Homo sapiens: one gene and its partners. The protein of the gene in region 4 purifies or fractionates together with the protein of the main gene of each other region. This does not show direct contact. Each region holds a gene or a part of one and is shown on either strand. Other genes may lie near its edges.

Evidence for each region.
Region 1: the proteins of MANSC1 (region 4) and TP53I11 purify together in Homo sapiens (affinity purification with mass spectrometry; 2 studies listed by BioGRID and IntAct, with this or other methods). This does not show direct contact.
Region 2: the proteins of MANSC1 (region 4) and MINDY1 purify together in Homo sapiens (affinity purification with mass spectrometry; 2 studies listed by BioGRID and IntAct, with this or other methods). This does not show direct contact.
Region 3: the proteins of MANSC1 (region 4) and ATP7B purify together in Homo sapiens (affinity purification with mass spectrometry; 2 studies listed by BioGRID and IntAct, with this or other methods). This does not show direct contact.

The regions. Positions count from the first base shown.
Region 1 is NC_000011.10:44,940,808-44,947,938, forward strand, and holds part of TP53I11 (tumor protein p53-inducible protein 11), read right to left. Parts: intron 271-7,131; exon of another isoform or gene 196-270; intron 1-195.
Region 2 is NC_000001.11:150,996,862-151,003,992, forward strand, and holds part of MINDY1 (ubiquitin carboxyl-terminal hydrolase MINDY-1), read right to left. Parts: intron 6,108-7,131; exon of another isoform or gene 5,846-6,107; coding exon of another isoform or gene 5,757-5,845; coding exon 5,304-5,756; intron 4,969-5,303; exon of another isoform or gene 4,922-4,968; coding exon 4,864-4,921; intron 4,454-4,863; coding exon 4,389-4,453; intron 3,755-4,388; coding exon 3,596-3,754; intron 3,107-3,595; coding exon of another isoform or gene 3,104-3,106; coding exon 3,001-3,103; intron 2,651-3,000; coding exon 2,508-2,650; intron 1,413-2,507; coding exon 1,221-1,412; intron 919-1,220; coding exon 763-918; intron 507-762; coding exon 426-506; 3' UTR 1-425. UniProt on the Homo sapiens protein: Hydrolase that can specifically remove 'Lys-48'-linked conjugated ubiquitin from proteins. Has exodeubiquitinase activity and has a preference for long polyubiquitin chains. May play a regulatory role at the level of protein turnover.
Region 3 is NC_000013.11:52,008,372-52,015,881, reverse strand, and holds the start of ATP7B (copper-transporting ATPase 2), read left to right. Parts: upstream 1-4,431; 5' UTR 4,432-4,544; coding exon 4,545-4,595; intron 4,596-7,510. Other genes in the region: ALG11 (GDP-Man:Man(3)GlcNAc(2)-PP-Dol alpha-1,2-mannosyltransferase), read right to left, coding at 3,420-3,463. UniProt on the Homo sapiens protein: Copper ion transmembrane transporter involved in the export of copper out of the cells. It is involved in copper homeostasis in the liver, where it ensures the efflux of copper from hepatocytes into the bile in response to copper overload.
Region 4 is NC_000012.12:12,333,144-12,340,274, forward strand, and holds part of MANSC1 (MANSC domain-containing protein 1 isoform 1 precursor), read right to left. Parts: intron 5,418-7,131; coding exon 5,277-5,417; intron 1-5,276.

The DNA of each region.
Region 1 (7,131 bases), on a different chromosome or scaffold from region 4:
GAGAAAGCATCAAACTGTTTCCCAGAGCAGCCATGCCACTGCGTGTCCCTGGCAATGCAGTAGTGTTCCAGTTCCTCCACATCCTCACCAACACTCGGTAAGGTCGGTCTTTATTTCAGCCCTTCTACGAGCTCCTCCTGGCTGGTTAACCCCTCTCCCAGGCCAGACGTGCTGCCTCCCTCAGTCCTGCCTTACCTCTTCCTGCTGTGTGGCCTTGTGCTCTGAGTCTCGGTTTCCTCATCTGTGAAATGGAGCCATCATTCCCACTTCCTAGGGAGCCCGGGGCAAAAAGAAAAGCTCAGAGCACTCAGCAAAACACCTGCACATTTGCCTGAGGAATCCGCACTTAGTGAGGTCTACTGTGAGCAAGGTACATGGGTGGTGGGACAGGCCCCCTATCCTGAAAGAGCTCCCAGCCTTGGCCGGGGGAGGGGGCGCTGATCTGCTAGCCACTGATTAGAGCAAGTTACTTTTCCTCTCTGAGCTCCGGGGTCCTCATCTGTGAAACGAAAACAGCCAACCTCACTTTTCCCCTACAGCTGGTCTCAGGAGAAACAAAATAATGGACAGACAGTGCTTTAGAAAGAGCCAGCTCACTGCTCAAGCCAGAAGGCCTAATGGGTAAGTGCTTAACTGCTGAGGACGCTCCCTGGATTTGAATCCCAGATCCATCACTGCCTGGCTGTGTGCCCGTGGGCAGGTCAGTCACTTAACCTCTACGTGCCTCAGTCTTCCCAGGTGTAGTTGGGAAAATAAGGTGTCCTATCTTATAGAGATACTGTGAGAATAAAAGCTGTAATCTCCATGAAGCCATGGGGAAGTGCCTGGCCCACAGCAAGTCCCCAGTGAAGACAGGCAATTATCAGACACAGACACTGCCACCCTCCCCAGGCCTCCCATGTGGCAGTGGCACCAGGATGGAGGCCATGGAGGAGTAGGAAATGGATCTAACTAACACTTCTTAACTTCTCCGCCCCACTGGGCAAAGCCCCAGATCTCAGTCCCCGGGCACAAGGCTGGCGCTCAGCCACTGCCCACCAGGCCCAGGCTGTGTCCACGGCCCACCTCCGAGGGGCAGAAGCTTCCAGGCATTGGATGCATTGCTTTCCTCTGCCTGCTGACCCCTCTCCACCAACACATGCACACACACGCACACTGCACACACAGTACACACACACACACACCACATATACACACCATACTCACGCCACACACACACCACACACCACACACATACACACCACACACACCACACACATACCACACACACACCATACAAACTACACACACCACACAATACGTGCACACACACGCCACACAAACCCACCACACATACATCACACACACCCACCATACACAATGCACACACAAAACACACACACACCACACATACCCACCACGCACACACACCCACCACACACCTACCACACACCACACACACCCACACACTACACACACCCACCACACACATCACACACACCACATACCACACACCACACCCACACCACACATTACACACCATAGACACCACACACACACACCCCCACAACACACCACACACAACCATACACACACACCACACAAACCACAAACACCACACACACACCACACACACACACCATACACACACACACACACACACACACACACACACATACACACACAGAGCATTCCCCTCTGCATCCCAGGACGGAGTCAACAACAGCTGCTGCAAATCAACGGCTGTGGGACGTGTCAGTGCCCACCTGCTGGGGCTGGGAAGAGTGGGCACTACAGTGTCCTGGACAGAATTACTCATGGGTGGGACAATCTTCATCCACGGGCACTGCCATCAGACATCTGAGCTGGTGGGAACCACTGTGCCCACCTCCCAAGCCCACCCTAGCAGGGAGGGCATCACTCACAAAGGGCCCATGTGGCCCCACAGAGAAAATGGAATCTTGACCTCCAGGGAGGAGGGCCCCACACCCACCTTCCAGCACAGATAACTGCTCTGAGAACGGCGCTCCACCCCTACTTCACCCCCAGGACTGGGCCCTGCAATGATCAGATCCACCCAGCAGCCCCTCACCTGCCCCACTGGCGAGGCAAGCTGCACACACCCCTGAGGTCTCCCCTTGACCTTTCCTCCCCTTCAGGGCCACTCCAGGTGTTTATTTCAGGCCTAAGTGAGGACAGAAGACTCCACCGTGCACTATGGCCAAACCCCGGCTTTGGGGGCAGGGGACCTGGGTTTGAGTCTTGGCTCTGCCCTCTTGCCAGCTGCATGGCTTTGTGCAAGTCACTACACCTCTCCTAGCCTCAGTTTCCCCTCTTGTGAAATGGGGGTAGTGAGAACGCTCACCTCGCAGACGTGCTGGTGGAGAGAGAAAGAAGGAGTGCACGTGGGCACCCATGGGGAAAGTGCCCTGCCCAGGGAGGAGTCTGGCCCTCCTTCCACTTCCCTTTCTCCACTCAGCCGTGCACAGTGGAAAAAGCCTGCCATCAGTGCTGTGAAGCTTCCTGCTCTGCCCCACTGCCTTCTGAAGGGCCCCCGGGGGTTTCCCCCAGGAGCCAGGCTGCAGGAGGCTGGGGGCAGGGGCAGCAAGGACAGCCACTCCTCCACCCACATCACCTGTCTGGCAAGAAGGGAGGACATGGCTCCTAGGGCCCAGGCCTGGGATCCTGAACCTTTCCCTTCTGCCCTGCCAGCTGCTCTCGCCCACATTCCCGATCAGCCAGCAAACCTTTCAACAGTGGTTCTCATTGCTGACCCTTTACACAAGTGAGAAGGTCCCTGGGACACTCTGTCCCCCCACCATGCTCCTTGTTCCTCCAGGCTATCTTGCACACAGCCCCTCTTCCCAGGGCCCTCCCAGGGCACTGGGTCCTCATCCTCCTCTGGACTCTCACGGGTCTCAGTGTCTGCAGCCACTGGCCACTTATAGCCTCTACTCCTGGTCATTTCACGGCAGTTTGACTCCCCAAGACCAACCAGTCTGAAGGTATGGCTTGTACTGTGCTCCTCCGTGTATCTCCCCGTGAGGCTGGGGTGCACAGCAGGCACTTTGTCAACACAGGTGGAATGAGCAGCTGTCAGGCTAAGCCCAACCAGCACACTCAGAAGCCCACAGGTTAGACGTGGCGGGCTGAGGGGAGGCTGTGCCCCAGGCCACATGGAAGCTGGTGGCATAGGGCAGGAAAGGGCTTTCCAATTAGGCAGAACTGGGTTCAAAAGTGGCCACTCTCTGTTGGTCAGGTGGCCTTAAGCGAGCAGTCTCAGCCCTCAATACAATGGGGATCACACCACAGCGCCTTACTTGCCTTACTCATGGGGTGCTGAAGACTCCAGGAGATGGGGTGCAAATGCTCTTGGCAGAGGACCTGGCAGTGGGGGGTCTGGACAGCCGTGAAGGTTAGAGGACTGGATGAGAACACTGGCCTCTGACATTGCCCCACCTCCTCAGAAAGCTGTGGCATCACTCGCAGGGGAGTGCCCCAGGGCAAGGATTTCTTTGGGTCTTGTTCTCTGAGCCTGGGACAACTCCGGGCACAGGAGGAGTTCAACAGGCATTTGTGATTGAATGAATGAGTCGGGAGGAGCTAAGAGGCCCTCTTCAGCCAAGATCTGACTCCCTGCAGTCCCTCCCACCTCCCCATCTGCTGTGGAATCTGAGGCCAGGGAAGAGCACCTCCACATGCTTCCCAGGGGCGAGGCGGGAACAAGCAAAGTCCCCAAGACTAAACCAGCCAGGAAGAGAGGGGCTTTTTGGGGATACAAGAGTCAGAAGAGGATGACAGACAGGGAGGTGGTAAGCATATTTGTAACGATTGGGAAAACTTGGGCTCAAATCCCTGCTCCTCTTTATTGCTCTGTGACCTCAGGAAAGTTACTTAACCTCTCTGAGCCTCTATGTCCTCATCTGTGAAACCAGACTACTACTTCTGTACAAAGCCCACAGGTTTGTGATGTGTGATGATAAGAAAGTGCAGCTGAGGAGCCTGGCCTCTGGTGTGTACTCTGTAAAGGACAGCAATTAATAACATGAATAAGGTGGCTGCCCAGGCTCTGCCCTGGCCAGATCAGATGGGACTGAGGCGTCATTCCCATGCAGATCCTGGAGGACTTCCCCAACCCCCTGTCTCTTTCCCAGGAAGCCTGGTTTCTATAGAAACAGATGGACTGCCGAGCTGTCCCCAGCATGAAGACTATGCCCGTGAGGGCTGGCTTAGGAAACCTGACTGGCTGGGGGAGTGGGGAAGATGAGGGAGGGAAGAGGAAGGGGCCCAGAACATCCATCAGTGGCCAAGCCTCCCTGTGAGTCAAGGGGGAGTCACTGCTGCTGCACACCTCAGCCAAGGAGCCACTGCCTTTCCAAACAAGAGCTTCTGTGATAGGGGCAGGCAGCACACCTGTTCCTCCACCCCTCATAAGGAAGACTGCCCCCAGGGCCACCTACCCCGGGGCTGGGAGGAGCGGGGCAAGTACTTCAAGACCATGAATCCCCTGCTATCCCCACCACAACCCTATGAGAATGGCCATATTATCACCCCCATCTTACACATGAGAAAACGAAGGCTCATGTGACTTATTCGAGTGTCCCTTGAGGTAAGTGGCAGAGCTGGAATTCAAGCCAAGGTAACTGTTCTTTAACTGGACATCCTAAGAGAAGCTGATGTGTGTGTGCAATGTGTGCGGTGGTGGGGGTGGGGGGGCGTTTGGTGGACGTGAACTGAGCTCTAACCCATCTTCCCCATGGCAACTCCCCCGGAAAGTCCCTGGTGGTCGCCAGCATCTGGACTCCTCTCTGGGGTCCAGCCTCCCTTGGGTTAAGGCCCTGCGACTCCAGCAGGACTTGGGGAGGGATGCAGGGAGACCCATTGTTCTGTTATCGCTTTAGTACAAAATAGCTGGAAATGGGGTCTGGGACAGGGCAACACAGAGTTGGGGGGCGGGGTGCTGGCAGTGAGAGCCAGAGCCTCAGGCCCCCGGCCAGAGAGAAGGGGAGGCAGGAGAAAGAATCTCTGCTCCCTGGAGGGCGGGACGGAATAGAAGGTCCAGAGCTTGCGTCATCCGCTCCAGCTGCGGTCCCTCCCAGGGCTGCCGTCGGCCCCTTGGGCAGGATGGAGTCTAGAGATCCCCTAGCCCAGAATCTATTGCCTGGGCCATCAGGCAGTGAATCCACTTGTCAATGGCTGTACTGGAGAGGCTTAGGGACTAAGGGACTTGTGTTCAGATCTTGGCTCTGCACTACTAGGCTCGTGCCTTTGGGCAGACAAACTCCTCTTTGAAGGAGCCTCCCTTCCTTCCACCGTAAATGGGGCGGTGGTCCCTGAGTCACAAGGCTGTCCGGGGGCTAGAGAGATAATCTAGAAGTCATGGGACACAAAAGAGGCTTTATGAAAGCGGCTGCACTACTGACATCCTCACAGCGGCCTCTGGGGTGCAGGTTTCATCGGAGGCCCACAGCTAAGGAGGAAGCTGAGGCGAGGCTACCCGGTGGATGGGCCTTGGCTGGCTCCAGCTGGCTTGCTATCAGGCCATCCCTCGAGAGCATCATTATTCCAAAGGCTGGGGCTGCCTTAGTCAGTCTTGTCTCTCAAGCAGATCCTGAGCCAGTGGAGGGCGGAGCTGCAGCATCCGTCTTCCTCATCATCTCAGCATCACCACTGGGCTCAGTGTCCAGGCTGCTGCAAAGAGTGAGGACAGAGCGGAACTGGCCGGGAGAGGCAGGCGCAGGATGCGAGTCCCGTGGCAGTGGCAACCCCCGTCTCCATGACACAGCTCTGCAGTTGAGAAAGGTTCCACGCCCCATTTCCAAGAACCTCCAGGAACATGTGCCCTGAGATCTGGTAGTGGAAGGTTTGTCCTGGAGCTGGAAGGTGGCAGTGTGTCCTGAGTCACTGGGCTCGGAGACAGGACAGCTGAGGTCACAGGCAGATTCTGCCATCACTGGTAAGCCAGGCCCTGTCTTTGGGGCTCAGTTTCTTTGTCTAAGAAAATGAGAATGTGGTCTCTAGGGCCCCTCCCAGCCCTGCCTCACAGCGGCCACACTCCAGGTCCCTGCTGGGCCCCAGCTCAAGCTGCCTCATCCCCAAGACCCGCCACCCCTCAGCCTGGACTGGCACACAGGTCCTATCTTCCTACTCTTTCTTTTTGAAGGGGCCCAATTTCCAGAAAGGCAGAGGAAAGCCCAACCTTTCATCAGAAACATTTCCAAAGCTTTAGGGACAAATATGAACATTCCTTACTGTGCTGAAGAGGGCGAGAGGTCAGGGCAGAGCAGGTGGCAAGAAGGAGGCATTCCTGGGCTCCTCCCCCGGGGGTCTGAAGCTGCTGCTGTGGGCAAGGGGATCAGGCCCTCTGATGGCCTCCATCACCGCTCAGAAGTCACTGGGAGGTTTTTCCTGTCTCGACGGTCATTCACATGGGCAGAACATGAAGAATTCCTGTCCTTTTCGACTCTGAGAATAGGCCAGCCTGCCCCTTGGCCCAGTGACCATGTCAGGGCCCTCAAGGGCAGCTGGTGTCGTCATCAGGACAGCCTGACTTCCAGATCCTATCGGGCTAGGGGTCTGGTGAGAATGCAGCAGGCACCTCCCTCTCCGACCTGCACCCCACTCTCCCCATGCCCCTCCCCCACCCCGTGGCTGTTCAGGAACTTAGAGGGGAGAAGAGGGTGGGAGAGGAAGGGAGAGGAAAGGACAGGAGCTTCCTCGAAGGGATGCTCCACATTTTGAGCCCGTTTCTTCAAAAGCAAGCGGTGATTTGTCTTCTGGGTGAGTTGGGGGAGGCAGGTGGAAGGGTCCCTGCCCTTTTCGCAGGATAAGATGGGCCACAACCATAGTCCAGGACTGAGTGTCTCCCCAATCCTGGGGTGCTGGCTTAGTGGTTAAAGGACTAGCTCATGACTTAAAAGGCTTGTGCTCCATCCTGGCTCTACCACTGATGAGCTGTATGCCTTTGGGCCAGTGACTCTGCCTCCCTGGGCCTCAGTTTCCTCATCTGTTAAATGGGGTGTAATAATGACACCAACCTCTCACCAGTGAGAAGATGCACCAAAAAAATCCAGAACAGCGCCTGTTTTGTAGTTAATGTTCAATAATAATGCTGCTCATTATTTTTAGACTAGAAGACTCTACTTCCTTGCC
Region 2 (7,131 bases), on a different chromosome or scaffold from region 4:
CCCCAGGAAGGCATTACAAATAAGAGATAGAAACCCAAATTAAGCTCTGAAACAACTGGAGACAGGCCTGCCTAGGTGATCAGGAGCATCCAGGCAGCAGGGATGGGAAGCAGAAGAGATGCATTCTGGATAGGGACCTCACCCCAGAGCCTCAGTCTGTACATACGTGTGACTATTCAGGGACCGGGAGTTGAGAACCAGAAACCCACCAATCCTAGTGTTGCCCTGGATGGGAGGCAGAGAAGGCAGCAGCACGTGAGGTCAAGGACATTACCAAGTCTGACCTTGGCATTTGTTGCCTGCTCTCATCCCCAACAGTCCATAAATAAGTTATCCAGCACATCTCAGGGGTGGAGGCGGGGGAGCAAGCCAACTAGCCATAGCCTCTGGAAGAAGGGGCAGGCCAGCCTGGCACTGGGGCAGAGCTACAGCAGAATGCAGTCTGACTCGTGCTTCGGCCTCTGCCGACGCTCCCCGGCTGGGCGTCCAGATGTGGCTCCTCTCCCCTGTATCGGATTTAACAATTGGTCACTGAACTTCCTTGGAAGAGCACAAGAAGAGATTCTAGAAGAAGGGGTGTCAGGATTGGGACAGAGAGTAGGGAGAGGAAGACAGGAAGGGGCTCCAGGGGAGAGGGACAGGCAGGGGAAGGACTCTGAGAGAAGAAACCTTGAAGAGACCAGTGCAGGAATAACAGGTGTTCTGGACCCGGCAAAGCATGAGGTGGAAACCGGGAGTGTGGGCGCCCAGGCAGCAGCCCACCTGCAGTGACAGGACCCGCGTCCGCATCCGCACTGGCTGCGCTGCCTGCTGCTGTTGATACTCCTCTTGCTGAAGCTGCTGGGCCAGCTCCAAGTCGGTAAGCCCCAGCGGGCCTCGTGGCTGTTGCTGCTGCAGGGACAGAGCAATCAGGTAGTCCTGGGGAGAACAAGAGTTGTGCAGTGGGCTGAGGCCCAGAGCCGTGGCTATTCAGGCAAGGTTTCCAAATCAGTTTTCCCACATCCCTCAAATTCTCTAGCTCTTTCTCCCCACAGAGCAGCACACACAGCCAAATGCATTATCTGTGGTGCCAGAGAATACACACCAAGTGAGGAGACGGTCTGAGGTAACCCAGAGAGAGAGGCATGGGTTCACATGGCCTCTAGCAGTTAAAATGTATGCAGTAAAAAGCTCTCTGAGGCACATGTGCTCTCTGCACTTTTCCTAAGTGCCCTACACACCTGGTCTACCTGCAGCTGCGTTTCTGGGGAGCCACTCCCACCTTCTGCTCCAGGCCCCTTGCCCAGGGAATGACTCAGGTGAAAGTCAGAGTCACAAAAGCAGCTGTCTCCATCCACATTGTGCAGGCTCTCCCATACGACTTGCTCCTCCTGTAGAAAGCCCTGGTCAGTGACCAGTAGGTATAAGTGACTCTACAAAGAAAAGAACAGAGCTCATTGGGGGGACAGTTGATACGGAGGCAGTTCACTGCCAGAAATCTCGGTATGAGCATGTGGACTTTTTTTTTCTTGGAGATGGAGTCTCGCTCTGTCATCCAGGCTGGAGTGCAGTGGCACAATCTCTGCTCACCGCAAGCTCTGCCTCCCAGGTTCACACCATTCTCCTGCCTCAGCCTCCCAAGTAGCTGGGACTACAGGCACCCGCCACCATGCCTGGCTAATGTTTGGTATTTTTTTAGTAGAGACGGGGTTTCACCGTGTTAGCCAGGATGGCCTCGATCTCCTGACCTCATGATCTGCCCGCCTCGGCCTCCCAAAGTGCTGGGATTACAGGCATGAGCCACCGCACCCGGACCCTGAGCATGCGGACCTTTTACAAATATGTGTGGCCTTGGGGGGAAGAAAGGGATGTCTGAGTGTATGTCCAGTTGGGTGTGAGCACGGTGGTCATTCTGGCTAAGCGTGGCATGGAGTCGTTGGGGCTGAGATGCCACATAAGACCCTGCTCCCCCCATTTCCCATTGTTCTCTGGGCTTGCCTGATGGCTCTTAGGATAAATCCTTTGAGAACCAGAGACCCCTCCCTCTGCTGCTCAAATCCTAGAGAGCTTTGGCAGTTTCTAACTTTTGAAGACCAGCATTGTTTAAAAATTCCACTGCCCCCTCCTAGGGGAGGATCATACTTTCCTGTCCCATCGACGGCAGGCTTATCCCTTATGGCTTGCTCTGGCCAGAAGATGTGAGCAGAAATGACATGTGTCATTTCCAAACAGAAGCTCTAAGCATGAGTGCACAGTGCCCCTCTCTCTCTCTGTTCCCACATATATTCCAGATAAAGGATCTTTTGTCAGCTGGGTCCCAGAGTGAAGATGGTGTGGGACAGAACCGTAGCCAGTCCACAGTGGACACGCACCAGGAGCGGGAAATGAACCTTTGTTGTGGTAAACCACAGGGATTTGAGGGGTCACTTGCTACCACGGCTTAATCTAGCTGATCCCAGCTGGACCCACGAGAAAAAGGCACCAGGAAATGACAGCACCGCAGCACGCCACCCCCAAACTCGCATTACCTTATGCTTAGTCATGGTGCTAAAGTGGTTGTTTCGGAAAAAGACGCTAAGTTCACCCTCCTTAGCAGCTGCTGTCAGCTCACACAGTCCGTGGTAGGTCAGCTGGGCCGCGGTGGTCTCCAGGAACTGCTCTGCAATCAGGCCTGCCAGAAAGGGACGAGTCGGGGGAAACTTGGCTTAAATTCAAGGTCCACAACAGGAAGGACCATCCAGAGAGCCCCTGTCAAAAGCCCCGGGGGGTCAGTCCCACCTTCTGACGTCCCTTTCTTGAAACCTGGCTGTATTCATTCACTTAACAAATACTTATAATAGAGCAGCTACCTTGTGCCAGGCACTGGGGATACCTCAATGAACTAAACAGAAATTCCCCAAGCTCCTTCTTGTGAAGCTTATATCTAGTGGGATGTGGTAGGAGATGACACCCAATAAAAAATAAGCCTAAGTAGCTGTCATTCCCTCCACATACTATCCATGAGAAGGGGAGGAATGTCACCTTCTGTCACGAGGTTGGTGTCACTGGAGTGTTTGCAGGTGATGATCCTCTCCACCAGCTGGTTGTAACTCAGTTTCCCAACTGCACGCACAGCCTCAGGACTCTGCTTGGGTAGTGGGATGTGGGATACCAAAAAAATTGGGATTTTTTTTTCTTTTTTAAGGAAGGAAATGAACAAAGCTCACAAGGACTACAACCCTGTGATGAATGGTTCCTAAACACTTTTTTTTTTTGGTCTCTCAAAAAAGAAAAAAATTTCAGGAACCATTCATCATAGGGTTGCTATGTTGCCCAGACTGGCCTCGAACTCCTCCCAAGTAGCTGGGAATACAGGCATGTGCCACCAAACCCATCTGCTTCCTGAATTTTTGATGTCTAAAGAACTGACCTATTTGCATGTAGTTTGCTTGTATTTGCATGTTACCCCCAAAATAGATTAAAATTCAAGGAATTCTGTACTGGGTCCAGTCTCTAAACACTATTTCCCTCCCAAGCCAATCTAACCCCTAACTCCCTAACCTCTACCCGACAAAAATTTGCCTCTCTCATGTCAGCTTGAGCTGGATAAGGTCCCAGTGGGCCCTCCCACCCTCACCTGTGGATCAACAAGCCAGCCATGGTACAGAGGTATGCCTAGCAGGTCAAAGACACTGCACTCGGGTGTATACTCAAAATCAGAGACGCCTGTGAATCGCACATTGACATCCAGACCTGTGGCCAGTTTAGGCAGCACTGTCATTGCATCATCCACATTCTGGGGGTAGAAAAAAAAATGATGGAGATTCTAGCCTTCTCTCCCACCACTCCACTCCCACCTGCAGAAATTAAAAATTAACCTTGCTGCTCTTCTTCCCTGATTCTCTTACAAGCCACTCCATTTCTCCCTTGCCTCAACCCTTCTCTATCTTATATAAATGAACATTGTTTTTCTTTGAGAGTCTAAGTCTAATTCTTTCATCCAGGCTGGAGTGCAGTGGTGTGATCCTAGCTCACTGCAGCCTCAAACTCTTGGTTTCAAGTGACCCTCCCACCTCAGCCTCCTGAGTAGCTGGGACTACAGGCACGCACCGCCATACCTGGCTAATTCTTGAAAAAAAAAATGGTTTTTTTTAGAGACAGGGGTATTATTATGTTGCCCAGGCTGGCCTCGAACTCCTGGCCTCAAGTGATCCTCCCGCTTTGGCATCTCAAAGTGCTGGGATTACAGGTGTGAGCACCCGGCCAATGAACATATTTTCTAGGACAAAGATAAACTCTCCTCTGACTCCTGCAGAATGAAATCATGGTTCAAGGAAACCTCTGAAGAAGCAACAAAAGCTTATCTTAGTATTACAAGATGTCCCCTTACAAACCTGCAAACCCCTATGCCTGCAGACCTTTTGCCTCACCTGCTGAAAATTAAGCTGAAGTCCCTCTGACTTCTCCTGGGGCTTGATGGACAGGAGGCAGTTTCCTACAAGACAGGGCCCCTTATCAGCTTACCCCACCAATCATCCCAAAAGCTAAGTTTCCTCTTCTCCTGGAGAATGCGGGTAATGTCACAGAACACAGATTTTCAGAGCTGGAAAATACTTAGAGTCTAATCCAGACTCTTCATTTCTCAGAGGAGGCGACAGCCTCATAAAGGTGAACGGCCCACCCAGGGTCAGATACAAAAGCTAAGGGCAGAATTGGTGTTACAACCCAGGACTCCCGACGCCTTTGCTTTTCATTCTCCAGCCTTGCAGAGAAGCCCCATAGACCCTTACCCTCCCTGCTGTATCAGAACCCCCAAATGGAGATCCCTGAATAGTCTGGATTTCTGGCTGAGTGGATAGCTCTGGAGCCCCTTGGGTAATTCCTCTTCAACGCCCAGTCACTCACCAAGATGGGCCATGAGCTCATCCGATGTGATCACTTCCTTCTGCGGGGGGAGCTTCACCTGGAGGCAGAAGGGGTGATCACGTGTGTGCTTTCCTCCAAAGAGCACTGAAGGAAGAACCCATGGAAAGGCAAGGGGGAGCTCCAGTAGTAGGGTGGGGTAGGAAAAAAGGCTTGCAACTGGCACAAGGGAATGAATGTGAAATCTTGCAAGGCATGTGCATTTGCTAGGGAGTAGGAGATACAGGGGTAGGACAGATCTTCCTCTTTTTTTTTTTTCTTTGTTTTTAGGAACATCTTATCTCATTTGCTCAAGCTGGAGAAATAGGGAGAACAATCTGAAAAGTTTTGACTAGTTTGAGGACATCAGGATGATCAAGGAAGTAAGTCAGGGAAGAGTACTCCCTGATATTTTTTGCACCCCTAACTGCATGTTCTCTTACCTTCCACTGAAGAAAGAGGATGTTCATGATGGCAAGGAGAGGGCAAGGGCCGTTAGTGCTCTGGGTGATGATGGGTGTCTGTTCTCCTTTCCAAGGGATCCACTTGACACAGTAGAAATCTGGCTCAGGCTGTCGGGTCCTGGGGGACTGAGGAAGCTCCTGGGGCATGGAGCATGCCCTTATTGTCTCTACTTCAGGCAGTGTCCCAAGGGTTGGCCCCGGTGGAGCTGAGCTAGCTTCAGGCAGAGGGGACTCAAGGTTGTCCCCACACTGGCTAGGCAGCAAAGCTTGGTCTGCTGGCTCCCGTTCTCTAGCCTCCCCATCAGCATCTCTTGCATCTGTGTCCTGAGGGTGCTCATCTGGGCCTGCCAGAACCTCATGGTTTTCAGGGATGACTGCTTCTGCAGTCCCGGCCTTACCAGGGGCTGGATCCTCAGGCTGATGGTATTCCATGGTCAAAAGGGACTTGGCTGAGGGGCACTGAAGGTGTTTACTAACCTCAGGGACTTGCCTAAGCCAGGCTTGGGATGCAAAAGAGTGACCTGTCCAATAAGAAGGAAATCAGTGGGCTGGAAAGCAAACTAACCCAGAAAAGTCTTGGAAAAGGAATGTAGTGTAGAAGGCTGGCTAGTGTTTGTGCAGTAACTCCTGGCTATGGGCAGTATATGTGTAAACAGAAGGGCCCCGTGCTGAGCTCTTTCCACCTCTAACTTGCTGTGACCAGATGAGACCAAGAGGTCGTGGGGCTTCCAGACTTGGGAGGGAAGACTGGTGGGATTGAACACATGGGTGGAGTCAGCTTCCCTGAAACAGATCATGACAGGGAAGGGAGGAAAGACAGAGAGAAAGGGAGAGCACAAAGGAGAAAGAAGGATAAGAGGTGGAGAAAGAAATGTTAAATCTACGCTAATGGTTATTAATATGATGATCTTTAGCTTACTCTAATAGGCATCACATCAGTAACCCCCTCATAGCCATGACAGAGATAATTCCTCTGCCCTACCCCACACCCTGCCCCTTCACACAACATACTAAGAATACACAGTGCTTGTATGTTTAGGGATACCTTCTCTCTGCCTCACCCAAGGATAAAAAGATTAAGTCACATAGTACTTGGGGTGAAGAATGGAGGAGGCACAGAGAGTCAGTTTCATGCCCCTAAAGGTGAAATGCTGGTGAGGAAGGGGAAGTCTTCCACCTCAAAGGGCTCTACTGAACCTTACACAATCCCAAACCACAGTATAAAGGCCTTGGGAGGGGTTTCCTGTAAGCTGGGAGGGGAAATGTAGGTGGTGGGGGCTGGAATCAGAGACTGGTTTTGATAAATAACTTCAGATTAGGGGCACAAAAAGCACTCCCCACAAGTTCTTCCAGTAAGCTTCTCTTTAAAAAAAATTAATAAAGATATCAAATTTCTTTTAATTAAACTGAGACAGGGTCTTGCTTTGTTGCCTAGGCTGGTCTTAACTCCTGGGGGCCCAAGCAATCCGCCCTCCTCAGCCTGCCAAAGGACTGGGATTACAGGCATGAGCCACGGTGCCTGGACCCAGTAAGCATCTCTTGACAGCTAGCATTGAGACAGCAACTTTTCCTCAGTTCATTTTTTTTCCCCAGAAACTACCTAAACCCAGAGGTACTCTCTTGCCTGCTATTTCTATGAAATATGAAAATGCTGATTATTAATTTACATAACAATACTTCCTGTACATTCACCTACCTAAAGTTTTATGTCTATTCCCATCCAAGTGGTTTTATTTATTTATTTTTATTTTTTTGAGACAGAGTTTTGCTCTTGTTGCCTAGGTTGGAGTGCAATGGTGCGACCTCG
Region 3 (7,510 bases), on a different chromosome or scaffold from region 4:
CCACATTTTTGGGTATCTCTTCAGCAGCACCCCACTCTACTGGTACTAATTTATGGTACCAAGTTCATTTTCACGCTGCTGATAAAGACATACTCGAAACTGGGAACAAAAATAGGTTTAATTGGATTTACAGTTCCACATGGCTATGAGGCCTCAGAATCATGGCGGGAGGCATAAGGCACTTCTTACATGGTGGCAGCAAGAGAAAAATCAGAAAGAAGCAAAAGCAGAAACCCCTGATAAACCCCATCAGATCTCGTGAACTTACTCACTATCACGAGAATAGCATGGGAAAGATTGGCCCCCATGATTCAATTACCTCCCCCTGGATCCCTCCCACAACATGTGGGCATTCTGGGAGATAAAATTCAACTTGAGGTTTGGGTGGGGTCACGGCCAAACCATATCACATAGTTTTCACTGCCCACATGAAAACATACAAATTCATCAGAAAAGTAAATTTTGCTTTTTTTAGATACAGGGTCTCACTCTGTCACCCAGGCTGAAGTGCAGTGGTGCAATCATAGCAATCACTGCAGCCCCAAACTCCTTGGCTCAAGCGATCCTCCTGCCTCAGACTCCTGAGAAGCTGGAACTACAGGTGCATGCCACCACACCCAGCTAATTAAAAAAATGTTTTTTGTAGAAATAGGGTTTTGCTATGTTGCCCAGGCTGGTCTCAAACTCTTGGCCTCAAGTAATCCTCCTGCCTTGGCCTTCCAAAGCATTGAGATTACAGGCATGAGCTGCTGCACCTGGCCAGAAGTAAATATTTTATTGATATTTAGTTTTGACATAAAGTTCTCATGTGGGATTTCCTATTGTGAACAAATCCTCATTTGTTCCTATTGTGAACAAATCTCATGTGGGATTTCCTACTGTGTACTTGAAGAGGTATTTGACTCTATTTGAAATCCCACATGAGCACTTTATTTCAAAGCTGAAATAATTGGTCTAAAATAATTTGGTCTTTATATTCTTTATACACCTTTATACTCTTAAAAATTTTACTGAGGATACAATAGAGCTTTTGTTTACATCAGAGTTTCTCATCCTTGACACTACTGACATTTTGGACCAAATAATTATTTGTTGCGGAGGTTGTCCTATGTATTATATTTAGTAGCATCTTTGGTCTTGACCCACTTAGATGCCAGTAGCACCCTCCCAATCAAAATTATCAGTTGGGCATGGTGGCTCATGCCTGTAATCCCAACATTTTGGGAGGCTGAGGTGGGAGGATTGCTTGAGCCCAGGAGTTCAAGGCTGTAGTAAGCTATGATCATGCCACTGCACTCCAGCCTGGGCAACAGAGCAAGACTCTTATCTCTAAAAAAAAAATTAAAAAAAAAAAGCCCTCCAGATATTGCCAAATGCCAAATGTCTTGCGAAGGGCAAAAATCACCCCTGGTTGAGAACCAGTGGTTTACACTGCTTATATCTACCAATATTTAGCATATTAGAAATGAAAACTAAAGAACTTTAAACTTTTTATGAATTCATTTGAAAATAAAAATTCTTTCATAACACATTAACATATTTTTATTAAAAAACTATCTTTTCCAAACCAAAAAAAGAAATTTAGCAAGAAGGGTGCCAATGATTTACACTTTTTGCAAATCTTTTTAATGTCTGGCTTAACGTGAAACCAGATAGTGGCTCCTCCTTTCTGTTTCTGCATTCAATCTAGTGATATGTTGTTTTTGTTGAAGTATATGAAGAAAATTCAGGCTAACTTAGACATGTAGTAGGAAAAGGGAGTATATTTTAATATATATTGATCTTATGTTTAAAATATATTTAACTTTTCAGCTAGTTACAGATATTCTTCTCTGATGCTAGACCACATTTGACAAGTTATGCAGTTTCTTAATGTCAGTTGCAATACAGACTCTGAAACCCTATCAATGACCTTTTCACACTGTTAATTAAAATCCACTATCACTTAGTTTTATCCGCTATCACTTTTGCACTTATCAACATAGTAAAATAGGCAAATATTACATTAATGTTATTATAAAAACAGATTTGTTGAGGATCCATTGAAGGGCCTTGGGACCTGCATGGTCCATGGAGCACAATTTGAGAACCACTGCCTTAAAGGATGAACAGAGTCTGACAAAAGTGGTAAGATTTATCATTTATTTAACATTTGGAATATATGAATTCATAAAAGCAACACTACAGAGGACAGTTTGCTTTCTCAGGACACTCTTTCAAAAGCTTATTTAAAATGCAGCTGACCCATATAATGTAAAGGTTTTTCTGGCAATTCCTTCAAATAATTTAGGTGGGAAAATTCATGTGACAAGCTTTTCAAACTGAACTATTAAACATTTAACTTAAAAGCTGCATAATAACTAAAGTTAAACCTGTCCTTTAAGTCTGGTTAGTGAGTTTATTTAAACATTATAATGTAAAGCACTGAGGAATATTACGTATGACAGGGAAGAACCAAAAGGCTCTGATAACAGACTTTCTCATTCAAAATGTTTAAAGTAATGATTACAGAATTTGAAGTAGAGTGGACAAAAACGAAGAAGAAATGCCTGAACTTTTGAAAGAATTAGGTATATACTGCTATTCAGGAAGCTATGGTGTTAATTATAAATTTTCAGCCTGAACAAAAATATGTAGGTGGTAAAAAAACTAGGTAGGTAGAATATACTAGGCCTTCTGTTTTATTAGTGGAGGGCAAGGCATTTAAAATACAGTAGTACTACAACAACAAAGGTGGAAAAAAGCCTGGGAGTTTTTTCACCAAAATGTTAACAGTGGCTATCTCCGGATGGTAGCATTCCTGGGGTTTTTTCCTTTTACTTATCTATTTTCTAATTTTTCTAGAAGAAACAGCATATACACGTAATACAAATAAAATAATATTTTATGTAACTTCTTACATCATAAAAATTAAAGTAACAGATTATCAAAAAGCAGAGGATTCAACATAAGCTTTATATTTAAGTGACGTGTTAACAATGGCAGTTTTGGTGAGTTTAAGAGTAGAAACTAAGATGAGAAGGAAGATCCGGTTTCTTCTTTACCGAAAAGAGACATGATAGATTGGAAAATGTCTCGTGGCTCAATCGTAAAGAAAAATAAGGAATGAATATGAATAATTTATGACAGACTAACTGGAGTGTGAAAGGGAAAAAAAAAGCTGAAGCAGGGAAGGGAACTCGACCCCTCGGCCAACAGTGAAGCAGAAGAAAACGCGGTAAATTGAGTCTTTAAGACCTAGTCTATTCCAGTCTATATAGAAGACCCCCAAGAAAAAGAAAGACTGCTCATTGGCCTGAGAAATTACCTTAGATTCATGACAAGGAAGGCCATTTGCCCGCAAAATTTAGCTACACTGGACGGGCAAGTACCCCTACAGAAGAGAAAACGTCTGTGAGCCCACACGACCGGCTGCTCACCTCAACAACTTGCACAGGCACCAGCTCCTTTCGCCGGCCGCCATCTTCCGCCGACCCCCGAACTCAGGAAACGCTTCACTTTCCTTTTCCCTATTGGCTCCTGAGAAAGCAAGCCGTGCTCGCCCCGCCCCCACGGGCCAATTGTGCGTTACTATTGGTTACTGGTAGCCGCTTCCCACGGCCTTCCAGCCAATAGAATATGCCGAGGCGTAGACTAGTGTTCGGCGTGGCGCACACGGCTCCCGCCCCCGTGGGCGGGACAGCAGTGGGGGGTTGGGCTGAGGAGGGCGTGGCCTGTGATTGACAGCCGTCGCTCCCTCCCTCGGCCACCTCCCCCACTAGAAGCCCCCGCCTGGGCGCCTGCGCCCCCGTTCCCGGCCCAAAGCCCGCCGCCCGTTGGAGGCCATTGGCTGGCCTTTGCGCACAGCGGATCGATTTTCCAGGTGCGGAGTTCACTCTTGCCGCGGTTGCTTCCTTTGGGACCCACGGCGTCCGGCAGCCAGGCGCAGAGTCCGAGGAGGGGGCAGCGCAGAGCGGACCCGACGCGGCGCCGCCGGGCACCTTCCCCGCAGGCGGTGGGTGAGCCCTGGGAGCTGAGTCTGCGGCCCGGCTCTGCGCAGCTCACCTGCCCTCCCGCTCCCGCACACGCGTGAGATCCCAGTACAGTGTCGGAGCGCACCAGCGCGAGGTGGCCGAGACCGCGGAGGAGGACAGGCCTCCGCCCTGCGGCGCCGGCACGGCAGAGGACATTGTGGCACTGGCACGGCAGAGAACACTGTGGCACCGGCGGGGCCGGCAGTTCCAGGGTGGGCACTCCCAGCCACCTGGGGAGTGGGCGAGGGTCCGAGGCCCACTCTCCCCTCACGCTCTCATCCCCGTGCCCCCAGGTCGGGAGGACGGCGGCGCGCAACTTTGAATCATCCGTGTGAAGAGGGCTGCGGCTTCCCCGGTCCCAAATGAAGGGGCGGTTCCCGGACCCCTGTTTGCTTTAGAGCCGAGCCGCGCCGATGCCCTCACACTCTGCGCCTCCTCTCCCGGGACTTTAACACCCCGCTCTCCTCCACCGACCAGGTGACCTTTTGCTCTGAGCCAGATCAGAGAAGAATTCGGTGTCCGTGCGGGACGATGCCTGAGCAGGAGAGACAGATCACAGCCAGAGAAGGGGCCAGTCGGAAAGTGAGTTTTGTTCCCCCGCGTCCGCGCAGCGTGCTCACTCCCACCAGGAGGATTTTCCTCCCCGCGTTCGGCGCTTACTCGCCCCCAGGGGGTGCGCAGGGAAGGCCGAGCCAGACCCCAGCTCCAGGGATGTCTTGGCGTGGGAGAAAAGGACCCTTTAGAAAAAGTGTGCCGTCAACTGATGTTTGGGAGCAATGGAAAACCCCGCACCTCAAAATTCATCTTTATGCTTTTAAGGGGTCTGATGCTGGAGAGATAAAGTGAGCGTCGAGTTGCTGTGCTAGAGCCCTAATGGCTCAAAACGATGAAGTTAGTTACCTGGAGAAGTTACTCAGAGCCTGGTGCTTGGACCAGATATGGTATATCGAGGTCCTGGAACTTTTATAACTGTTTTAAATTCATTTTAATTGTACAAGTAATACATTAAGACAGTCTTTTAAAAATGGAAACAGCACAGAAATATTTTGCACAAAAAGCAGATCTATTTTTCAGTCTTTTTCTATTCACGTACATATGTCTTCATTCGGCAAATATTTATTGAGAACTTTCTATGTTTCAGGCACACAGTGTTGAGTTGATACAGTGGTTAACAAGACATGTATCTATATGTAATATGCACACATTCAGAGAAATCTTTAGGTTTCATTTGTATGAGGTGTTAAAATTTTTGTTTTACCTAAATGAGATCACTGTATGTGCATTCTCTTTTTTCAGTTTAACGATATATCTTAGAGATTGTTTCACTAACTGTCTAATTCAGTGCAACCTCTGCACAGTTTGGACGCATCATAGTTTATTCATGGTTTCCTAGTGGTGGACGTTCTGTTTGCTACTTTTTTTCTCTCTCTCTTGCAAGTGAACATCTTTGTACATGATTTTTAATGCTGACACTATTTCTTTAGGATAGATACTTAGGCCTGGATTGCTGGACAGAACAGTAGGCTGTTTCTTTTCCACAGATTTCTGAAACTAATTCACTGACGTTGCTGGGTGCCCTTTAGTAGTGAATTCATCTAGGCTCCGGTGATACAGAAATGAAAACTAACGGATTAGTGGACAGACAGAGAGAGGCTGGTTAGTAGGTGGTTTGTAGGGTATGATGACTATGCATTTGATAGGAGTATGAAGAAATGTTGGGAGGGGTGGCTTGTACAGAGGAGATTTCAACTTCCTACAGTGTCCCCACCTAGAGAAAGAAATCATTATCCTTCCAAATCAAGCTCAAGACCTGCCACCTCCTTGAAACGTTCTGTAACTGCTCCTGCCCATGTTGACCTGTCTTCTGGAATCCTCTGATAATAGCGTTGACCAGCGTTATTGAGCTTACTGTGTGCTGGGCATTGTGTTAGGCACTCATATCCCTCTATGTGCACTCTCGCGTTTAATCCTCACAAAAACCCTTTGATGTAGGTATTATATCTTGTTATCAACATTTATTCAACAAATTTTTTTGTGTGTACTATGTGCTCAAACACATAGTACTCAAAGTTTTAGACACTGGGGATTTAGGTAGGACCGAGACCTTGCCCTCATGAATTTACATCCTAGTTGGAGATAGGAAAAAAAAAGGGATAAACAAATGTATAGCGTAGGAGTTAAGGGAAAACTTTTGTGCCCCGTGAAGCGTCACTGAAAAATCAACTGACAAATGGCAGATTAATAGGAGAGAAGGCATACACATTTACTAACGTGCCGTGAGAGTCTTACAACATAAGATCTCAAAGGAAGGCAAGGTGGTTGCCACAATTATACTATCCTGAGGTTACAGAAAGTGTGGGGGCTCTAAGCTTGGCCAAAAACAGGTTATGGTTGTAAATCAGGTTATAGGAGGGAGAGAAGAGGAGACCTGGCTAGCAAAGGTGGTCTTATGTAGATGAAACCTCACAGGTAGCAGCCCTCAGGGAGAAGAAATGTTTCAGACCTTGAAGGTGCCAAATTCAGCTAATCTCACCCAGATCCAGACAAGGAAGGGCCCTCTGAGAAAAACTGGCTGCGTCAATGGAGGTTCTCAACAGATGCTCATCTCCCTCACAGTAGGACTACTTTTGTCTGTAGGCCCTCTGAACGGCCATCTCAAAATATTTCCAATAAGTCTGTTTTGAGGTGAAATGTTTTAGTTTCCTTCAATAGCTTTATTTCAGGTACTAGTAAGTACTATGAAGAAAATAAAGCAGTTTGGGTCCAGGAGTTCAAGACCAGCCTGGCAGCATATCAAGACATCGTTTATACAAAAAAAAAAGAAAAATTAGCTGGGCATAATGGTGTGTGCCTGTCGAACCAGCTACTCGGGAGGCTGAGGCAGGAGGATGGCTTGAGCCCAGGAGTTTGAGGCTACAGTGAGTTGTGATCCCACCACTGCACTTCAGCCTGAGTGATAAAGCAAGATCCTGTCTCAAAAAAAAAGAAAAGAAAAGAAAGCAGAATAAGGGAATAAGATAGGGATTGACATGGGTGGAGAGGAAGATGCTGTTTTAAGTAGGTGGTCAGGGAATGATTTCTCTTGGAAGGTAGGATTTGAGTAGAGACCTGAATGATTCAGATTTCAGAGAAGTAGCCTAGGTTGAGAAACCATAAAGTGTGAGAGTCCTACGGCAGTCATGTGATAAGAAGAAATATATACTTGGTCTTGTCCCAAGTTCCTGACATAGAGCTTCTTAAACCGTTGTAATTTCCTGAGAGATGGTGATAAGAGCATCTTTTGTTATTCATAACAAGTCTCTTTCACCCCTACCTGAGTTTCTGTTAATGAGAGGGCTCTTGATAGGCCCCTAGATAGCTTCAGGATGGAGACTGATTGCCAGAAGAACCAACCATGTGATTAGGGGATTCGAATGTTCAGCCCCGTGCTCCAACCTCTGGAGATTGTGCCAATCACCAGTGGACAATGATCTAATCAGTGATGCCGGCAGAATAGA
Region 4 (7,131 bases):
TCAAGCAATCCTCCCACCTCAGCCTCTTGAGCAGCTGGGGCCACAATGCCATGCCACCATGCCCAGCTAATTTTTGTATTTTTTGTAGAGACAGAATTTTGCCATGTTGCCCAGGCTGGTCTTGAACTCCTGGAATCAAGCAATCCGCCCACCTCAGCCTCCCAAAGTGCTGGAATTACAGGTGTGAGCCATCATACTTGGCCTATAATTCATTTTAAAGTTAAAAAAGAAAAAGACTGTTTAAGTAAACACTCTGTGATGTGTGTGAAATCAGAACTTAAATATGGCCATTGACAAGAATGGCCAAAACAGCTGTTTTCTTTCTCAAGCATGCAAGCTCATAAATAAAGCAAAGCTAGGGCCAGTCCCACTTCTTGATAAGATTCCTCTGTTGGCAGAGGTCCTAGAACCACAAAGGGATCCTCCACACCTGCTCCATTCGCCTCACCCACTCATGTTTGCCATTGGGGCATGGTGCTTCCTCTCAGTCACGCAGAGATGAGCCACAAAGGGAGCTGCAAAGCAGCTCAGCGCCCTTAACTCCTCTTTGGAGTTTTATTTTCAAACGACTTCACTGAGTTGAAAAATGAGAGACTGACTATTACTGGGACCCCAGCTGAGCAAACAGACTCCCAATTTATTCTATGTCTGAATTCTCCTATTCTTCCAGTCCTTGGTAAAAATGACATGCCATGAAGCTGCCAACAACAACAATAAAAGATTAAATACCAAACTGCAATGGCTTTAGAGAATGAACAGAATCCACTGTCATCTTTCAAACTCTTGGTCCGTAAATATTAGTCAATGGGATATAGGAAATAGAGGCTGGGCACGGTGGCTCATGCCTGTAATCCCAGCACTTTGAGAGGCCGAGGCAGGATGATTGCTTGAGGCCAGGAGTTTGAGACCAGCCTGGGCAACATACTGAGACCCCCCCATTGCTACAAAACATTTTAAAAAATTAGCCTGGCATGGTGGTGCATTATCTGTAGTCCCAAATACTTGGGAGGCTGAATGGAGAGGACTGCTTGAGCTCAGGAGGTGGAGGCTGCAGTGAGCCATGATCGCGCCGCTGCAGTGAGCCATGATCGCGCCACTGCACTGCAGCCTGGGCAACAGAGTGAGATGCTGCCTTAAAAAAAAAGAAAAAAAAAAAGAGAGAGAGAGACAGAAAAGAAAAAGAAATAGAGTTCTTCCAGAAACAAACCACCAAACAGATAATCTGTATTTAATTTCACTCCAGGCAGGAGGCAGATAATTCATTTTTAATGGGGTAATATGAATTCATCAACATGGACAGATTCATACACAGAATTACAAACACAACTTGCACACATCCTGTAGATATAAACAGTCCTTTGCATACTATGTCCGGGGTTGGTGCCACGTTGCCCCTAGGTGTCCATCAACCTGCTCAGGGGCCGGCAACGCCCCCTGGTGGCTGCCACAAGAACAGTTTAATTCTAATTTCACTTCATTACCTTCACACTCGCCCTAAAAAGATTTATGCACATGCCAAGTTCCCTTTTTTCCGTTCCCATTGGCAAGGAACTTCATCCCATACATGCTCTTTTATATGTGCATTACAAAAGTAACAACACTCCAGAAGTATTAGAAAACAAATTCAGCTGTAATTTCTATCATCGTATCCTAACAACAATTATTTACACAATACTCTGTGCTTCACGCTCCTGTTTGAGAGGATGTTTGACCCATCAGGCTTCCCTGGCACATGAACAAAACTCAGACACAGCCTCAGCTAGGGGGCAAAGCAGTGTCAACACGCAGGCACCCTGGGCAGTATCATTCCCCGAAGCCCCTCATACTTAATGCAGTCAAGAGAGAACCCTAGATTCCACTCCACCTAGATTCCATTCCACAACCCTAAAACTACTCAAGTTTCCCCCAGTGCAGCAAATGGTGTCACCATTCATCTGGATGCTCAAGGCAAAAACTAGGACTTGGCCTTGATGGTTCTTTTTTTCTGGTTCCCCAGACCCACACCACCAGCAAGTCCTGTCAACTCTACTTCGGAATAGCCCATATGTCCACTACTCTCTCCATCTCGCCCGCCACTCCCTGTTTCTTCACCCAGATCTCACCTGCGCCTCCTAACCAGTCTTTCCATTTCCACTTTGCTGCTGTGTCACTGTCCATTCCCAAGAGGGCGGCTACGGTGAGCTTTGAGAAATCACCTTTTTTTTTTCTTCTCCCCGAGACAGAGTCTTGCTCTGTCGTGCAGGCTAGAGTGCAGTGGCGCAATCTCAGCTCACTGCAACCTCTGCCTCCTGGGTTCAAGCAATTCTCCCGCCTCAGCCTCCTGAGTAGCTGGGATTACAGGCACGCACCAGCACACCCGGCTAATTTTTGTATTTTTAGTAGAGACGGGGTTTCACCATGTTGGCCAGGCTGGTCTCGAATTCCTGACGTTGTGATCTGCCCGCCTCAGCCTCCCAAAGTGCTGGGATTACATACATGAGTCAGGAGGTCAGGAATTTGAGACCAGCCTGGCCAACATGGCGAGACCATGTCTACTAAAAATACAAAAATTAGCCAGGCATGGTGATGCTTGCCTGTAGTCCCAGCTACTCAGGAGGCTGAGGCAGGAGAATCACTTGAACTTGGGAGGCAGAGGTGGCACTGAACCGACACTGCATCACTGAACTCCAGCCTGGGTGAAAAGAGTGAGACTCCATCTCAAAAAAAAAATAAAAATAAAACTCCCAACAGCTTCCCACCACACACCTAAAAACTCCCGGCCGGGCACGGAGGCTCATGCCTGTAATCCCAGCACTTTGAGAGGCCGAGGTGGGTGGATTACCCGACATCAGGAGTTCGAGACCAGCCTGGCCAATGTGGTGAAACCCTATCTCTACTAAAAATACAAAAATTAGCCACGTGTAGTGGCATATGCCCCTCCTAAGGCGGAGGTTGCAGTGAGCTGAGATCGCGCCACTGCACTCCACCCTGGGCAACAGAGTGAGACTCTGTCTCAAAAACAACAACAACAAACAAAAAAACTCCCTCCTATGACTTACAAGGTGTTATGTGATCTGGCCCTCCCCACCGTTTTGCATATCACTCTCTGCGTATTTCACAATGAGTCAACCAGCTGGGATTGGAGTGTTGGTTTTTCAAACACTCCAAAGCATTCTGCCTGAGGACCTTGGACTTGGAAGGTCTTCCCCTGATCTCCTCACATCTGGCTCCTCACTATTCAGATCTCAGTTTAGGGGTTACAACTTTACTTACTGATTGTCTATTATACCGTCCTGTCTCAATTCTGTGCATAGCACTTGTGACTATATTTTTCTTGATTATTTATTTATTATGGTTATTGTCTCTCTCCCCTAAAACATAAGTTCCAGAAGGGAGAACCTTGTTTTCCTATTTTTTTTTTAGAGATAGTATCTCACTTTGTCACCCAGGCTAGAGTGTAGTGGCATGAACACAGCTCACTGCAGCTTTGACCTCCTGGTCTCAAGGAATTCTCCTGCCTTGGCCTCCCAAGTAGCTGGGACTACAAGCTCATGCCACCATGCCCGGCTAATTTTTTTAATTTTTTGTGGATATGAGGTCTCATCATGTTGCCCAGGCTGGTCTCTAACTTCTGGGCTCAAGTGATCCTCCCACCTCCCAGAGTGCTGGAATTATAGGCATGAGCTACCACATGGCCAGAACCTTGTTTTTCATGTTTAGTGTTGTTTCCTTAGGGCATAGAAAGTACTTGGCACATAGGAGATGCTAAATAATATTTGTTATTTATTGAACAAATGAACAAGTAGAATATTAAAAATCAAGAGTATGATGATAACTTTCTAAAACTTAAATAAAAGAAAAATTGAAGCTGGGTGTAGTGGCTCACGCCTGTAATCCCAGCACTTTGGGAGGCTAAGGAGGGTGGATCACCTGAGGTCAGGAGGTGAGACCAGCCTGGCCCACATGGTGAAACCCCATCTCTACTAAAAATACAAAAAAAAAAAAATAGCTGGGCATGGTAGTGGGTGCCTGTAACCCCAGCTACTTGGGAGGCTGAGGCATGAGAATTGCTTGAAGCCAGGAGGTGGTGGTTGCAGTGAGCTGAGATCGCACCACTGCACTCCAGCCTGGGCGACAGAGTGAGACTCTCTCTCAAAAAACAACAACACTCATGCCTGTAATCCCAGCACTTTGGGAGGCCAAGGCAGGCGGATCACGAGGTCAGGAGATTGAGACCATCCTGGCTAACACGGTGAAACCCCATCTCTACTAAAAGTACAAAAACAAAATTAGCCGGGCGTGGTGGCGGGCACCTGTAGTCCCAGTTACTCAGGAGGCTGAGGCGGGAGAATGGCCTGAACCCGGGAGGCGGAGCTTGCAGTGAGCCGAGATCGCACCACTGCACTCCATCCTGGGCAACAGAGTGAGACTCCATCTCGGAAAAAGCAAACAAACAAGCAACAACAACAACAAACCCCACTAAATTCTGTAATTCTGATTTTATGCAAATACTGTCTATGAAGGGTCCACAGAATTACCTAAGCAACATTAATTTGTTTTCACCTTTTTTATATGGATAATCTCAAAAAAAAGAAAAATTGATACTGAAACCACTTCAACTTGAAAAATTAACAAGCCAAAGTCTCAGCAAAACATATCCCAGGAATTATATTAATTTTTTTGCTATTTATTTTCCATTCTGAATTAATATGTAAGTTCCATGAACATGGAGATTGTAGTTCTAGTGCTTTGGACAGAATCTGGCACATGGTAAATGTTTAATAAATATTTCTTGAATGAATTTCCTTTCCAGTCTAGACAATAAAATCCAGTGAGTTTGATTTCAGACGAGATTGGGTGCGTTCAGGGTGGTATGGCCATAAAAAGTTTGATTTCAGATAATGTGATTATAATGGGAACTTAATAACAAATATACTAGAACTTTCTATATTAACACAAGTCTTCACCCTTTCAAAACAATCACCCTGGAGACCTGTATACTTATTCCAGTGTTGCCGACCTTGTTCTAAAGAGGTGCTTCAAAAACGTTTCATACAAGGTTTGTGTGTCTTTTATCTCATGAAGGTAAAAACAGAAACAAACCAGAACAAATACTACCATGGCTTTCATTGGAAATCAAATTTTGGTTTAATAAATTGAATTTCCAGTCATGAGATTTTCTGATATGTCTGGTACCCCTTCTGGTAGTTTTATTTAGACTCTTGTAGAAAATCTTTCACATGAACCAGTCTTAAATTATTCCAATCACAAAAGAAAAAGTATAATGCTTTCATTACCTGTAATTATCCTGTAACTCATAAGTCCTTTTGCTGGTTTCAATGGACAGGCTTCCTCGTTGGGACAGAAAAATAGGTAGCAGTTGGGTTGTCTAGCTGTTTTTCGAGTGTCGAAGATCATCAAGTTACATGCTTTGTCCCCTGCAATGAAAGGTTTCATAAGCATGATTTTGAAATGCGATTTTCTAAAGAGTAGGGCAAGTAGGAAAAACTTCACTTATTATGGAGTCCAACACAAACACCTTTGTTCATTTTGTTCACTTGCTTGCTGACCGCTGAATCATTTCCTTTTCCTTAGCTTAGTTGCTTAAGGCAATTTTAAAAAACATTGGGTTTAGCTTTTTTTTTTTCACAAGGTGGCACCGAAGGCGAAGAAGGAAGCTCCTGTCCCTCCTAAAGTCAAAGCCAAAGCAAAGTCTTTAAAGGCCAAGAAGGCAGGGCTGAAAGGCATCCACAACCACACACACACAAACACACACACACACACACACACACACACCCCTAAGACCTGCATGTCACTTACCTCCAGCAGCTCAAGACACTGTGGCTCCAGAGGCAGCCCGAGTATCCCGGGAAGAGTGCTCCCACATGTTTGACCACTCTGCCATCATCAAGCCCTGACTACTGATGTGCTATGAAGATAGAAGACAACCACACACTGGTGTTCACTGTGGATGCCAGGGCCGGCAAGCACCAAAGAGGCTGTGAAGAGGCTCTCTGACACTGATGTGGCCAAGGTTACACCCTGAGCAGGCCTGATGGAGAGAAAGAGGCATGCGCTCTGCTGGCCCCTGCCCACAATGCTTTGCATGTTGCCTACAAAACTGGGATTATTTATTTTTTTTATTTTTTATTTTTTGAGATAATGTCTTGCTCTGTCGCTCAAGCTGAAGTGCAAATGCAGTGGCATGATTTCAGCTCACTGCAACCTCCACCTCCCAGGTTCAAGAGATCCTCCCACTTCAGCCTCCCGAGTAACTGGGACTACAGATGCAAGCCACCACACTCGGATTTTTTTTGGTATTTTTTGTAGAGATGGAGTCTCTCTATATTGCCCAGGCTAGTCTTGAACTCCTGGGCTCAAGCTGTTTGCCCTAGTTGGCCTCTGAAAGTGCTGGGATTACAGGTGTAAGCCACTGCACCTGGCCATCTCTTGGATTCTGAAAGCATCTCAGATGCCTAATAAAGCCATGAGTGGAGTCAGTAAATTATCATAGATATCATGGCTCCTTCCACACAGGATCTGAGTAGTATATGGAATACAGTCTATCTTTTAATTTTTATCTGTACCATTCTTTGTGTTTTTCTTCCAATTACCCCTCTCTCCTTGTCATATTTGCTTTTCTATGTTCCTTCCTTCCTTACTTTTCACTGTTAACTATAATTTCTGGTCTCTTTTCTTTTCTTTTTTGAGTCAGGGTCTTGCTCTGTCATCCAAGCTGCAGTGCAGTGGAACAATCATGGCTCACTTCAGCCTTGACCTCCTGGGCTCAAACAATCCTCCCACCTCAGCCTCCCCAGTAGCTGGGACTTCAAGCGTGCACCACCATGCCTGGCTAATTTTTTGTTTTTTGTAGAGGCGGGGTCTCACTATGTTGCCTAGGCTGATCTTGAACTCTTGGGCTCAAGCAATCCATCCCCCTCAACCTCCCAAAGTACTGGGATTACAGGCATGAGCTAATGCACCCAGCTGCTGGCTTCTTTTTCTGTTCCTCTTGTGTCCAACAGAAATTAAACCCTCTATTCATCATGGCCTAGATTTGATTTTGTCCTCCATTTGGTACAGTCTCACATCTTTGGGAGGTCAGCGTATCCCTGGTCAGGCTGAAGGTTAAGAGACACATAGGCTAATTGT